2 separate regions of the Homo sapiens genome follow, and region 2 is linked to region 1. The links come from fine-mapping of genetic effects on gene expression. Tissue or cell type: whole blood. Region 1 holds a variant in brackets; the other region holds the start of a gene. All regions are shown on one strand. Distances are from middle to middle.

Region 1 (8,109 bases):
CCCTTTTTTGAGACAGGGTCTTGCTATCTTGCCTAGGCTGGAGTGCAGTGGTGCCATTATTAGCTTACTTGAGCCTCGAACTCATGGTATCTTCCTGCCTCAGCCTCCTGAGTAGCTAGGACCACAAGCACATACTTATTATGCCTGGCTGATTTTTAAATTTTTTTGTAGAGACAAGGTCTCACTATGTTGCCAGACTGGTCTTGATTATTCTGGTTTCCACCCCCTGTAGTGAGAGCGAGCCATGAGTTTTCCCTGCCTGGCTGTGCCTGATGTCAGCTCCCAGGCCCAGGAGGACTGCGAGGCAAAGACGGATGAAGGATTCTTGTACAGAGATATCTGAGTATTACTCAGCTGGCACACATTAGCTTTCTATTTTAATGAGCATTTTCAAATTTGAAAAACAAAATTCATCTCTACTTTTAACTGAAATGTGTTTGGAAATGTTAGTTTTGGTTTCAGTGAAGCCATGCAGGTAAGAAAAACCATCTTACTTGGACTGGAAAAGAAGGATAGATCAAATTTCAGGGCAAGAATTGACATGATAGTTGGGCAGGAACAAAGAGATAAAGGGAAGCCTGTGCTTTTGGTTGTACTCCCTACATATGGCCCTGGAACAGCAACCTGGTGATCTGATTACCATAAGCAGCACCCTCCTACCGTTGGTCTTGAAGGGAAGATGGAGCAGGTGAAGAGTCAGATAATGGCAGAGAATGCTGTAGGGTGTTGCATGCACTCCATCTTCCTCCCCCTTATCTGTCGTAGACATGATTGGTATGGCTGGTAAAGAATCATAGACCCAAGTGCATCAAATGTTCGCAATTTAGCATAAATAAGAGCATCAGGGGGACCTCATCAGGACAGGGATTCTTTTGATCATCCATGGTCCCCTAATGCACGACGGCAGGCCAGGTGTGGGGCAAACATTCAACTTTATAATAGACAAAATTTTTGTATATGATTGAATTTTTTGTTTTGTTCCTTTGAGAAGATGATATATAAAACTCAAATTTGGAGATTTGAATATAAAGGGCCATTGAATCATTTGTATATTTCTGAATCTTGCTTGATTCAATCCCTTGCCACTCCCAGCACTGCACTTCATCCGTGTCTTCACAAAAGGGAAAGAACTAGCAACAGCTTCATTACTCTTCCCTCCTTGTAACCACTGATGGTATTTACAAGCAGGAAGATTACCCAAGAAGTTCTCATCTAACAATGTTTTTAGTAGGCTTTTTGCATTGCTTATTGTAGATGAATCTGGAATTTGTGAAGTACAGGGCACAACTTGGAGAGCTAAAGTTAGTCATGTAGGTTTCCTACCTGTGCAACTAATGGAATGTAAAAAGCTCTAAACTTAAATGGCCTCCTAGGGCTAACATGTATGGCATGTACATGATACATACAGTAACATTAATCTCCTACTCAGGCACAAAGTACATTCCAGTGCAAAAATATATGTTTTTGGAAGTACATCTGATCTTTTGGGCCTTTTCAAAGATGGATATTGCTGTTTCTCTGCTTGCTTTTTGCTCATGTTCTTCATCAATTAGTAAAATTTGGTATTAAGTAAGCTGTATAATTTTCATAAATCTGCTTTGACAGTTTGACCTCCGTGGTAGCGTAATGACTAAATCAGAACTGTGCCATTCAATCAGCTTTTGGTGTACTTCTGACATTACTATAAATTCTTAGACTCAGCTTCTCATTATTATCTTATATTCTTATGTTTTAAAAACCTTAGTTCTTAAAGATTTCTTATTCTTATCTTTTCCTGCTACATTTGATTCCTTAGAGCAATCATTTGTTCTGATTAAACTATTAACGGAATTATTTTTTCTACCTAAGTTGCACAGGGGATGGACATTATTTCCATCTGGCTCACCTTATTCAAAATACTAAAACTATAATCAAAGCCCATTTTAGATAATCATCTCTTAATTGAGCTGTTTGTCCACTTCTTATTTCATGAAATTAGGAAATTGTTCACACATTCTCATTAAGAGCAGTGATGCCAGTGATGCAGTGTGGTATAAGGATGAAAGCTGGTACCCAGAGCATGGGATAAGCTAGAGAGAACTCTAAGGACATAATTTAAAGCCATATTCTGCAGAGAATGGAAAAGGCCAATTCTCCATTGAGGCTTCAGTTCTGGAAACTAATCTCAACAAGAATGTACCCTTTTTCATTCTCAACTCTAGGAACAAGCAGAAGAATCAAACAACTATTTCTATTTCGGGTTAGTTTGTCTATAATAATATCTCATTTCCTGGAGAAGTGTTTTAAGAGTGCATATTGTTGAATTTCTAATAGAAGAGAAAATAATATTGAGTTTCTTTACTGTATTTTTAGGCAACATTCTCAAATGAATTATGGTAATCTTTGCTCATATCTTTTGTTATTTTATTTTTTCTGCTATCTTTGGGTTTAGATCATTATTCTTCTAGTGCCTTAAAACATAAAGTTGTATTGTTGAACTGAAATCTTTTATCCTTTTAAAATGTAAGTATTTAAAGCTATAATTTTCCCTCTTCATACTGCTTTTACAGCGTCCCATTAGTTTTTGCAAATTGTGTTTTCATTTGTCCTAAGGTTTTTTCTAATTTTTCTTATTTAACCCATTGGTTGTTTAAAAGTGTGTTGTTTAATGTCCACATATTTGTGAATTTTCCAGTTTTTCTTCTGATATTTTCAGTTTTATTGCATAGTAATTGGGAAAGACACTGCATAATTTCAATCTTTTAAAATTTATTAACACTTGTTTTGTGGCCTAATGTATGGTCTCTCCTGAAGAATGTTACATATTCACTTAAGAAAAAAACCATATATTCTAATGGAATCTTGTTGGGTGAAGTGTTCTGCATGTGTCCAATTGGTCTGCAGAATTGTTCAAGACTGGTGGTTCTATCCAGCATTGAGAGAGGGGTATTGATATTTCCTACTATTACTGTAGACCTGTCTATTTGTTCTCTCCAATTTTATCAATGCTTGGTTAATATATTTTGGAGATACGATGTTTGGTACATATGTTTATAATTATTATATCTTAGAACTGATTCTTTTACTTACATGTAGTATCTTGCTTTGTCTCTTGTAACAGTTTTTAATTTAAATTTAACCTAGAGTCTATTTTGTCTGATATTAGTATAGCCACCCCTGCTCTCTTTCAGTTCCTGTTTGCATGGAATATCTCTTTCCACCCTTCCACTTTCACTTTCAAACTATGGTATCCTGAGATCTATAGTGAATCCGTAAAGTATCTATAAAAACAACATATAATTGTATCACATCTCCCCAACCCCATTCTACCAATATCTGCTTTTTGATTGGACAGAAACATCCATTTACATTTAAAGCAATTACTGATAAAGTGGAACTTCTGCCATTTTGATGTTTTCTCTTTGTCTTATAGCTTTTTTTCTCTCATTTCCTCAATTACTACTTTCCTTTGTTTTTAGTTCATTTTTTATAGTGACACATTTTGATTACCTTTTTATTTCCTTTTGTGTACATTTTGTGGATATTTTCTTTGTGGTTACCATGGAGGTTACATGTGACAGTACAAAGTTATAACAATCTATTTTGAATTAATACCAACTTGACTTCAATTGCACCCAACACTTTGCTTTTTTACAACTTTCCCTTCCTGCTTTGTTATGTTATTTCTGTCAAAAATCAATCTTTATATATGTTGTGTACCTATTAACATGGATTTATAATTATTTTTGTGAATTTGCCTTTTAAATTCTTTAAAAA[A/C]TAAAGTGTAGTTACAAGCCAAAATTATATAAAACTATTAGTTTTTATAATGTCCATGTATTTGCCTTTACCGGAGATCTTTATATTTTCCTATGTGTTCAAGTTACTGTCTATTGTCATTTTATTTCAACTTTGAAGGGCTGTCTTAACACTGATTATAGTGGAGGACTAGTAGTAATGTAGCCTCTTAGCTTGTTTACCTGGGGGTGCATTTATTTTTGCCTAATTTTAACAGGACAGTTTTGCTAAATACAGAATTCTCAGTTGACAAGTATTTTTCTTTTTCTTTTAGCACCTTAAATATATCATCTCTGTGCCTTCTGGCCTGCAACCTTTCTGCTGAGAAACTTACTGAAAATCTTATTGAGAATAGCTTGTATATGATGAGTCTGTTTTCGCTTGCTGCTTTTAAGATTCTATTAGTCTTTTAACAGTTTGATTACAATTTGTCCACTATGGGTCTTTTTGGCTTTATCTTGTGGTTCATACAGCTTCTTTGTATGTCTTTCCTCAAACTTGGGAAGCTTTTGGCTATTACTTTTTCAAAAAAATTATCTGCCCCTTTCTTCTCTTTCTCAAAGTCCCATAATGTTTTAAATGAGTAAAAACACAATAATTTTGAATATGACTTTTTCTTAATGGGAATTTACTTGGTTGCTCTTTTTTTCTGACTGTTTTTCAGAGTTTCTATAAAGTTATTTAAACCATCCATAGTATTTTTTTCTATGAATGAACAAAGGTTTGGAGGTTCTTAGCTTACCATTTTGCTGATATCCCTCAGTACTATGAACACAAGTAGGACCAAGACTCATAGCCTGGCTGCTAGCCAGCATTGCTTTGAGTTACACTTTTCAAAATTCTCCTACTTGGTGTAGCTCCTAGTATATCTTTGTTGATGAGGTAAATGAAATTCAACATGCAGAGTAATTTTTCTCAAACTTAGATTTATTTTCTAATTAAAAATAAATGTAATAATTGGCAGCTTAAAAATAAATGGAAGCACAGTGAAATTTTCTCATTTTTTTCTTTATCCTTAAGGAAGAGTTTGTTTTATTCATTATAATTTTGTGATGACTTAGTAAGTAGTTGAATTTTATTAAAATCAATGAAATGATTAATTTTTCTGTTGGCCACCAGAGAAGTGACTGAAACGGTTTCTCTTGCTGACTTAGATATTTAGTAGGCATATGGGAAGTGATCAGATTAGGAAGAATGTAAACTTATCAAAAAAGTGACAAGGAGGAATGGTAAGGTAGCCTTGAGGTCAGCGTACTAGGTCTGATTTTCCAACATGGTAGATTCTTTAAGGCACCTTCATCTTTTCACCACCTGTAGTTTGAGTTCACTTAGGAATGACATAGGGGCTCTTTCTTCAGGTTTTATTGACCTGAGTAACCTGGTTACCAGAGTGGAGCAGATAAAATGAGAAACAGTGAAATATAAACCACTAGTATGTTCACTGCAGCAAAAGAAAAATAAACTAGCCAAATGTGAAATAAGACTATTAGGAAGAAGGCAAAAACACAGAAACAATATGTTTTGTAAAAGGGGAAAATTTGATATCAATTAATTTAGACTTTCTGAAGCATTCTCTTAAAGAACAGTTTCTCCAGATGTTAATTAGGAGACACTCAATTTTTAAAAGTTAAAACATGTTTTAACTTCAAAACTCAAGAGATTTTAAAATTATAACAATAAATTATAAATCTCTAACAGCATTGACTATCATGGGGGAATATTTCAGAAAATAGTATTTTAAAAGTATGTATATATATGTCCAAATTTTATAAGTTAAATATGTGATTTAAAAAATAAAATGTATCAAGGCTGGGGGTGGCGGCTCATACCTGTAATCCCAGCACTTTGAGAGGCCAAGGCAGGTGGATCATGAGGTCAGAAGATCAAGACAATCCTAGCCAACATGGTGAAACTCTGTCTCTACTAAAAGTACAAAAATTAGCCAGGCATGGTGGTGTGCACCTGTGGTCCCAGCTATTCAGGAGGCTGAGGCAGGAGGATTGCTTGAACCTGGGAGGCAGAGGCTGCAGTGAGCTGAGATCGCACCACTGCACTCCAGCCTGGGCAACAGAGCGAGACGTTGTCTCAAAAATAAATAAATAAATAAAAATTATAAAATAAAATAAAATGTATCAAAATTCTACTCTCTCTAAGGGTGATTTTTAAACATTCTATTTATATTTGTGTATCCTCTATGTTAACTGTGATGTTGGTAATATTTTTTTCAATATCTACCAATTGGGGTAGTGTTCCTTCCATGACTTCCATGCACCAACCTTTAAAATACTGCTGCAGTTTTTTTATTTTTCAGAGACAGGGTATTGCTATGTTTCCCAGACTGGTCTCAAACTCTTGGGCTCAAGCAATCCACCTGCCTCGGCCTCCCAAAGTGCTAGGATTACAGGTGTGAGCCACTGCATGGGGCCTGCTGCATTTTCTTAATCCCTCTTCCTCATCCATATACATACACCTGCTGTGGATCCATCCATTTTCTTTTTTTATTTTATTTTATTGTTATTTATTAATTATTAATTAATATTATTAATTAAATATTATTAAATAAATAAATATTTATTATTTATTATTTATTATTTTATTTTATTATACTTTAAGGTTTAGCGTACATGTGCACAATGTGCAGGTTTGTTACATATGTATACATGTGCCATGTTGGTGTGCTGCACCCATTAACTCGTCATTTAGCATTAGGTATATCTCCTAATGCTATCCCTCCCTCCTCCCCCAACCCCACAACAGTCCCCAGTGTGTGATGTTCCCCTTCCTGTGTCCATGTGTTCTCATTGTTCATTTCCCACCTATGAGTGAGAACATGTGGTGTTTGGTTTTTTGTCCTTGCGATAGTTTGCTGAGAATGATGGTTTCCAGTTTCATCCATGTCCCTACAAAGGACATGAACTCATCATTTTTTATGGCTGCATAGTATTCCATGTTGTATATGTGCCACATTTTCTTAATCCAGTCTATCATTGTTGGACATTTGGGTTGGTTCCAAGTCTTTGCTATTGTGAATAGTGCCGCAATAAACATACGTGTGCATGTGTCTTTATAGCATGATTTATATTCCTTTGGGTATATACCCAGTAATGGGATGGCTGGGTCAAATGGTATTTCTAGTTCTAGATCCTTGAGGAATCGCCACACTGACTTCCACAATGGTTGAACTAGTTTACAGTCCCACCAACAGTGTAAAAGTGTTCCTATTTCTCCACATCCTCTCCAGCACCTGTTGTTTCCTGACTTTTTAATGATCGCCATTCTAACTGGTGTGAGATGGTATCTCATTGTGGTTTTGATTTGCATTTCTCTGATGGCCAGTGATGGTGAGCATTTTTTCATGTGTGTTTTGGCTGCATAAATGTCTTCTTTTGAGAAGTGCCTGTTCATGTCCTTCACCCACTTTTTGATGGGGTTGTTTGTTTTTTTCTTGTAAATTTGTTTGAGTTGTAGATTCTGGATCTTAGCCCTTTGTCAGATGAGTAGGTTGCGAAAATTTTCTCCCATTTTGTAGGTTGCCTGTTCACTCTGATGGTAGTTTCTTTTGCTGTGCAGAAGCTCTTTAGTTTAATTAGATCCCATTTGTCAATTTTGGCTTTTGTTGCCATTGCTTTTGGTGTTTTAAACATGAAGTCCTTGCCCATGCCTATGTCCTGAATGGTATTGCCTAGGTTTTCTTCTAGGGTTTTTATGGTTTTAGGTCTAATGTTTAAGTCTTTAGTCCATCTTGAATTAATTTTTGTATAAGGTGTAAGGAAGGGATCCAGTTTCAGCTTTCTACATATGGCTAGCCAGTTTTCCCAGCACCATTTATTAAATAGGGAATCCTTTCCCCATTGCTTGTTTTTGTCAGGTTTGTCAAAGATCAGATAGTTGTAGATATGCGGCATTATTTCTGAGGGCTCTGTTCTGTTCCATTGGTCTATATCTCTGTTTTGGTACCAGTACCATGCTGTTTTGGTTACTGTAGCCTTGTAGTATAGTTTGAAGTCAGGTAGTGCGATGCCTCCAGCTTTGTTCTTTTGGCTTAGGATTGACTTGGTGATGTGGGCTCTTTTTTGGTTCCATATGAACTTTAAAGTAGTTTTTTCCAATTCTGCGAAGAAAGTCATTGGTAGCTTGATGGGGATGGCATTGAATCTATCAATTACCTTGGGCAGTATGGCCATTTTCACGATATTGATTCTTCCTACCCATAAGCATGGAATGTTCTTCCATTTGTTTGTATCCTCTTTTATTTCCTTGAGCAGTGGTTTGTAGTTCTCCTTGAAGAGGTCCTTCACATCCCTTGTAAGTTGGATTCCTAGGTATTTTATTCTC
Region 2 (8,109 bases), 75 kb before region 1:
CCTTGGAAATTAAGTTGATATATTACAGAGTAACATAATCATTGATGATATAAACTATTTAGGAAATTCAGTTTAACTACAATCTCCATGATAAAACACTCTCCATCACTCTCTCATCATCTTGCTTTATGTTCTTCATGGTTTCGCAAACCGGTATCATCTTGCTTATTTATTTGCTTACTTATTTTTTGTGAATATTTTCCCAGTAGATGTAAGCACAATAAATAAAGATAATTTGTCTTCCTTAGTGCCTAGAACATGTAGGAGATATTCAATAAATAGCTTTGAATGAAGGAATACAGTAAGTCCTCACTCAGCCTCCTCAACAGGTTTTGGACACTTTGATTTTGAGTGAAACTATGTATAAGGAAACCAATTTTACCATAGACAAATGGACAGAAAGAAGAGTTAAGTTCCTACAGCATATTTCTGATAACAAAAGTACCACCAAACTTCTAAATAAAGACTAAAACACTTCCAATATTGAACACTGAAATAATTGTGAACCATACATACATTTAAGAAAGATTAGTAAAAACAAGGAAGAGAATTATTTACCTGCTTATTCCAGTTTAGAGTTCAGTGGCCAGAGCCTGTCCCGGCAGCTCAGGGCTCGAGGCAGTAACCAGCCCTGGACAGGACGCCATCACATCGCAGAGCAGACTCACCCACACCCACAATCGTTCACACTGGGACTACATAGACACAGCAGTTTGCCTAACATGCATATCTTCGGGATGTGGGAGGAAACTGACCGGGGTACCTGGAGAAAACCCAGGAAGACATGGGGAGGACATGCAAATGCCACACAGACGGTGATCCCAGCAGGGAAACAATTTTTTTTCCTCATCAACGTTATAACAGAAGGATGTTATTCAGGGGTCTGCTGTATATGAATAAAATATTTACTCATCATAATTGTACCAGATGTGAGGAATAGGTCTCATTTTACTATTTTATGGAGCTTGGGTGGGCTACTGGGTGACAGACTCGAAATACTGGTTTTCTGATTTCTAATACAATATGTCATATTATTCCCCAAAAGTAAATAAATATATTTGTACAAGTGAAAAATGAAAAGAAAATGTCTCGTGTAGATATGATTCTTAAAGAGGGTATTTGCTATGGATTGCATCCTAATGGGGGCCTCTTTAGGCAGTGGTTTGTTTGTTTGTTTGTTTGTTTGTTTTTTGGAGACAGAGTCCCACTCTATTGCCCAGGCTGGAGTGCAGTGGGGCAATTCGGCTCACTGCAGCCTCCGCTTCTGGGATTCAAGTGATTCTCCTGCCTCAGCCTCTCCAGTAGCTGGGATTACAGGCGCCCGCCACCACGCCTGGCTAATTTTTGTGTTTTTAGTAGATACAGGGTTTCACCATGTTGGCCAGGCTGGTTTCGAACTCCTGACCTCAGGTGATCTGCCCGCCTCGGCCTCCCAAAGTACTGGGATTACAGGCATGAGCCACTGCCCCTGGCCAAGGCCGTCTTTTGATGGCAGCCAATGTCATTAGACTACAACTTCTTCTGTACAAGTTCCCCAAAGTATCAGGGGCTCTCTAAGAGAGTATTACTTATTTCTTTCAGGTCCTGATGGTTTTCTCTTTGGAGTGGTTGTAATAGAGGACCAAGGAAGTTGTGAGCTGTTTTCTGGCTTTTGCTGTAACAAAAGCTTGTTGCTGAAATTGACTATTTCCCCCACTCCTGCATCCCAACACAGCATCCATTATTCTTCCCTTCAGTGCTCTCTTTGCAAAATCAGTCTAGCCTAGGCAGCAGACTTAACATGGTATGCTCCTGTGGGGATTCATACTTTATTTCTGGCTTGCTTTTAGGGTCCCAGGGCAAGTCGATATTAAAGAGATACTAATAAATTGCTAAATGGAAAGGGAGACTAGGACTCAGCTGGCTCCAGGCCTGAGCTTCTGCCTTGTCCCAGAGGGAAGCCAATGTTCACAGCAGGGCACATGGAGTTACCAGTTGTCCACCCAAAGGAACTCTCATCCCCTTCACTAACCAGGGAAAATGTCATATTAAGATTGTCCTCCTGTTGCAGTGAGCCGAGATCATGCCACTGCACTCCAGCCTGGGCGACAGAGCGAGACTCCGTCTCAAAAAAAAAAAAAAAAAAAAAAAAGATTGTCCTCCTTCAATCTTTTTTTACTATTAAATGAGAGCTTTGTATTAAACTATTCAGAATTGGGTTGTCCTTGTTTTTAGGTTCCCACACTATCTCTTTTGAATAAAACATGTTGTTGGGTGACAGCCCTTAGGGTTTTTCTCAAATCATTTCTCATGTGAATCCCCTTCATCCTCACTGTCCTTCCCTTAAGAAACTGGCGTGTGATAATGATGATTTAGAGGTCATTTCTGCTGACCTCATCCCTGAATCAGAGGAAACAGCATGGAGTAAGTTCTAAGTTCGGGGCCCACACCATATCAAATTTAGGCCTGGGGAAGGCAGTATGGCTCTTTCCAAACCCTCCAAAACACTACTGGGCTCCAAGACTGCTCAAGGTCTCACTGATAGTCAAGGCTTGTGCTCCTTTTTTTCAGAAGAGTAAGATTAAAGAAAACCACTGTGAATTAAAAAGTGTGGGTGCCAACATGGGACGGGAGTCCCCCCTCACTCCATGGATGACATAGAGGGGGCAGAAGATTACAGAATTGGCATTGTCCTGCGTGGAAGCTGGGCCACCCACAGTGGCGTGGGAAGCCTCTCAGATGCTGGATTCTAATGGGCTCTTGATCACCTTGGATTGGGCTATTTCATTGTTATCACAAAATAAACAGGATGCTCCAAGTCATGTTATGGCAGAGAACCAACCAGCTTCACACTGGTCCTCTAAACCAATCCTCACAACAGGACTGGGAGACAGGTGTTACCTTTCCCACTTTACAGAGAATGAAACAGAGTGGCAAAGCCTCCGAAGGACCCTACACTTCGGACATCGCAAAGCAGGATCTGAGTCCCGGCTCCTCTGTCCAAACCTACTTGCTAGGCTTTCTTTCCCATGTCTACTCTATAGCTGGAAAGGTCGTGGAGGACACATTTTAGGCCAACCCTCTCGGTTTACAATCCAGAGAGGGGAGACCCTCAGAAGCCAAGCGACATGTCCACGGCTACGCGGCGAGTGTGTGGCAACGTGGAAGGGGAGCCCGAGACGCCCTGGTCTCTCCCTTCTCTCGCAGGTTCCTTTCTCCCCGAACGCAGCCCGCAGGGGACGCTGGAGGAGGAGCTGAGCTGGAGTTGCCGGGGCCCCGGGACCGGGCGTTCCGGGGGCGGTCCCCAGCAGCCGCGCATTCCAGAGCCAGCAGCGCGTCCTGGCCGCTCCTGCGCTCTCCCGCCTCCCGGGGCTCGGAGGAGCCGGGGCACGTTCCAGGAGCTGCCTAGGGCTGAGGTTCCAGGCCTGGGGGTCGCTTCCAGCTGCCAGATCCCGTGCAGTCCTGGGGACCCTGAGAAGCACCGAGCCATCCCTGACCCAGGAACTTTCCGCAGACTCGCCGCCATCTGGGGTGAGTGGGGCCACCGGGGGATTGTTTGTGGGGCTCTGGCAGAGCGGAGCTCTTCGGATTCGCGACCTACCTCTAGTGCGGCCCCTTTCCCCGGGCTCCCAACGTTCTTCTTTATGTCCGGTCTCTCCTCCCCATTTCTCCCTTTTCATCACTTTTGTATTTCTTGCCCTCACCCCCTCCTTTTTCTCCTGCTGTCAGCTCTTAAGTTCGAGCCTCCTAGTGCACAGAATTTTGGGCCTGGGGGAGGCGGAGCTTGGGTGGGCGAACCCCAGCCCCACTCGGAGACTGGCTTCTCTCCGGGTCCGCTGCCCTTGCCTTCTCGGGAAGCCTCCTCCTCGGGCAGACTGCCACCTCCTGGCTCTCCAGGCCCAGCGTCAGGGTTCAGCGCCCGGGCCTGAGCACCTGCTTGGGCGCTGCGCTGGGTTTGGGTCTTTGCACTTACCTGTCCCGCTTTTCTCGAGGCCCCGTGTAGAAGGCGCCAGGAGTTTGGAGTCAGGAGTGGCGGGTTCCAGCCCTGGTTCTGTCACTAACTGCTTCACCATCCTTGTTTTTCCATCAGTGAAATTGGGAAAACATTTTCTGCGTGCAGAAAGCAAAGGAGAAAGGACATGAGCAAAGTATCTTGGAGAGAAGGCTTCCTTCAAGCTCCCTCCTGCTGGTTAGCTGTCCCTTTCCTGAGGACGTAGTTGTTCCAGTTGCTGGTTGTTTTGCTCCCTAGTCTCCCCCATGCCAGTTTCTTGAGGGTAGGGACTGCCTGTCTATCGTCATCTCTGAGGCATTCTCAGCTCTTGGAGCAGGGCCTGGCTAACAGTAGGTGCTCCATACATATGTACTGAGTGAAAGGATGAAAGGTGTAACCCCCCCCGCCCCCCCCACAAATTGAAACAAACCTCAGGGGCTGTTATTCTGATTGAGGGCCAGGCTGGGCTCTTACTTATGCAGCTGCACTTGTTTCTTCTGGACCAGCTGGAATCCTGCTGCACCTGGGGGCTGAGGAGTCTCCGGTTCATCTGTGGTGAATACTAAGGTCCTCAAAGCTCCAGGGTGTGGTGGTGAAGGCTGCGCAATCACACAAGTATCAGAGATTCCTTGAACATCTGCTATGATGCGTGCTGCTACTGCAGTGGCCACATAGTTTGGAAGGATTGGGGATGCCTGAATTAGGTGGAGGTGGGAGCGGGAAGAACAGGTACTCTGGGGGTTAGGAGACCCTCTGAATTACCCTAATGGAGGCATTTCCCCTCTCTGGCCCTTGTCTTCCCTATCTGTAAAATGAAGACATGGGAGTGGAACAGATGTTTGTCTGTGGTTGAGCATGACATGCTCTTTGGTTTATGCAGGCCGCACAGCAGCCATCTAGACACACGCAAAGCAGCACAGCTGAGCTTTAGGACATCATGTGCTTCTGCAGTGACAACTGAAAAAAACTAAAAAGTGTTTTCCTGCTCCAGCCGGGACCTCCTGTTCCCAGCTGTCCTGGGACTGTGAATCATGCTGTGGGGGTTACAAGTCATGCTTCATGAACTCTCCCACAAGTGACCTCTCCGAACCTCAGAACTGTGGCTCCATGACACTAAAGATCTGGGGAGTCCCAGAGAACAGCCAGAGAACCACTGAGTCGCGGTGAGGTGTTAGAGATGCAAAACAAATGAGAGACTCTGGGGGCCTGTGGTCAGGTCAGATCCTGGGCCCTTGGGGGTGACAGACCAAGGGGATAAGGGCCAGTCACAGCCTCAGATGCTTTCTCAGCCATACGCCAATCCTTTAAACGTTGTGCCTCCATTTCTTCTCTATGGATTGAAACATGCAAAGGAAATACCTCCAAGGAAAGAGAATATCTTGGTTGGGTGTGGCGGTGGTATAAAAAATGGGCACGTGTACTCACAAACACAGTTTATTGAGGTATAGGAGTAAGTGTTGGCATTGCGACACCCTGCCTTGTCCTCCCCCACCCTGACTGGCCCAGTAAGCGGAATGATGTTATAATGATCATACTTGCCATTTACTGAGTACTTACTATAAGCTAGGCATGACTCTAAGCATTTTACTTGTATTAACTCATTTAGGCTTTACCACAATCCTATTAGGGAGGGACTGTCATCACCTCCATTTTATGGATGAGGAAACTGAGGTCCAGAGAGAGTGACTCACCCATGATCACACAGAAAGTAAGTGGCAGAGCTGTAATTTGAACGCAGGCACCCTGGCTCCAGGGCCTATTCTCTGAACTTCATTGGAATTGGGGGGAACTAGGTTCAGATCTTGCCTCTGTCACTTACTTTCAGGGTGACCTGAGAGAAGTTAAGTGAGAATTTGATAGTCACTGTTCTAGTGGATCCCTAGAGACCTAGTATCCTTCCAACTCACTAGGGAAACAGAAGGTGAACCTCAAGAGATAATGGAGACATCTAGCAGTAAAGGCTAAGAATTAGGTAGTTAGGAAGGGGAACTGCTCAGAAGTATAATTGCCTGGCACATTAAACAACAGCAAGCTAGATTCCACGTCTAAACCATATACTTTAAATTGCTTAGTTGTGTATAGATAGAGCTTCCTTATTTTATTGATTTGCACTCTGATTGGCTGATTGGATATGTTTCTTGCTAGTGACCCACTATATAGGATCATATTCAAGATTCTGGGGACCAGGACATAGATGTCTTTGGTGGTGGTGGTGGTGGGCATTATTCTGCTTTCCACACACATGAGGCTGACTTTGGGAGAGCGACCTGTTGAGGCTCACACATTGAGGCAAGGCACTACCACCGCCCGGTGCTCTTGCAGCTCTGTCACGGAGCACCCTGCCAGCACCTCTCATGGACAGTCTCCTTTGTTAGCCCGACACACAGCAGGCACTTAGTCACTGGCAAATAGCAATGATGGATAGTAGTGCCTTAAACAGGATGCTGGGGATTTGGCCTGGGCTTTCTCCTCTGCTAGCTCTCTGTTGGTTTCTAAGACTCTGTGATTGGCTGGGTCAGATGGTACGTGCGGTCTTACACAGCTCTGGCTGTGTTCCGATCTCTTTGAAATATCTTGGTGTTTTTCCATTTTTCCAGCCACAGAGGAGCAGATGGAAACTCAGGCAGGTCTGTAGTCTGTTAGGAAGTTTGGAGAGACAGGGGCCAGTTGGGGTGAAATGAGAACAGAGTGCTCCTTAGGGACTTTGGGTCATTGGAGAAAAGGCTGTGATTTGATTCATTTCACATTTTTGGTAGTTGTATGTCCTGTCCATTCCTTCCTCTGGCCCCTTTATTTGGACCAAAGGTCCCTGGTGAAATGACTGTGCTGGGTTGGTAAATGTTTGAGGCTGTTACACAGTGGGAGGAGAAATACTTCCAAGAGTAAATGTGAAGCTGGTATGTCCTTCTCATATTGGACTTGGCATGGGAAACCTGCCCCCACTTTTATCAGCCTCCCTGACCTCTTCTAAGAACAGAAAGATTCACATCTTGGGCAACATCACTGCTCCCCTCACCCCTGGTCCCTCCTCCCCACCTCAGTCCCCAGCTCCTGAGCACATGGAGTCAGAACTCGAATTTGAGCTTATCGGCCCAAGCAAATCAACAAGTGGGAATCCTAGAGGGCTTCGTTCTGAAAGGCCAGTTCTCTTCTGCCTGGTATGTACAGGGTGGGCTGGGGAAGAAAGAGCCCCCCATAATCCTTCCTGAATGTACAAAGAGCCCAGAAAATGATAAAATCAGAGGACATCATGTTATTTTGGAGATAGTGTTCTGACTTTTAGAATCACTGGGACTTTTGCAGGGATGAGGATTCTTTCTGGACCTCTTCAGTCAATTAGGTTCCACGAGTGAGCTCACATCTGAAATAATCTTCCCATATTCATTTCTTCATTGATTTCATATTTGTTGGCACTTGTGATATGCCAGGCCCTGTGATAGGTGCTGAGGACACAGCAATACACAAGAGGTGAGGCTTCTGCTCTCCCTGTGCTTGCGTTTGAGGGAGCAAATGAACAAGTCTTTAGCCTGATAGGAAAAAAGCCAATAAAAACAAACAAGCAACAAACAAGCTAATTTTAGATTGTGAAAAGCATATGCAGAAAATAAAACAAGATAAGAGTGATAGTTTAACAGAGTGGGTCGGGAAAAACTTTACTAAAACGTAACATTTAGGTTGAGGTCATGGACATTGAGACAATGGACAGGGGAGGAAAAGAGCATTCTGAGAAGGAACAGCAAACACAAAGTTCTTCAAGTGGGATCAGCCCCTGGGACACAGTTGTTAGGTTCCCCAGGCTACAAAGTGGCCAGTGTGGCCCCATCTAGGAACTTGAATTGCCCTCTCTGGCTTAAATGTTCCATTCTTCCTTGACAACCTCAGCAGCATCTTCTGAGGGTGGAGACTTTTTGGAAGGGGTCCTATAAGGTGGACAATGCTGGCAAACCCTCTAGTCCTGTGCCCTGGGAACCATCAGCCTTGTTCACATTCTGCAAAATACTTGAAGAGTCATGTATCTTTGGACGCCTCAGCATCAGTGACTTGGAGCTGGTTATAGCTGTCTGCTCTCTGGCCACCGTGGCTGGTGGAAACAAAACAGCAGCAGCATGGTCTGCCCAGAGTTCTGGCAGTGCTGGGCT

What was found. PIP is the estimated chance that this variant, and not a neighbour inherited with it, causes the effect.
Region 2: SMIM3 starts here. The variant in region 1 is fine-mapped to the expression of SMIM3 in whole blood (TOPMed, PIP above 0.99).

Annotation. Positions count from the first base shown.
Region 1 is chr5:150,850,570-150,858,678 of GRCh38, forward strand. It overlaps a transcript of IRGM not described here. Among named protein-coding and RNA genes, the nearest start is that of IRGM, 8.1 kb to the left of the region's middle. The variant A/C (reference allele first, on the strand shown) is at 3,757.
Region 2 is chr5:150,775,463-150,783,571 of GRCh38, forward strand. It overlaps SMIM3 (small integral membrane protein 3), which reads left to right and starts at 3,295. Exons shown (of 2, transcript NM_032947.5): 1 at 3,295-3,510. LOC124901110 reads right to left here and starts at 4,939. Exons shown (of 2, transcript XM_047417995.1): 1 at 4,445-4,939; 2 at 1-4,089. The coding sequence starts at 3,659. The coding sequence ends at 3,018. RefSeq lists a silencer at 3,190-3,379 and an enhancer at 3,817-4,678.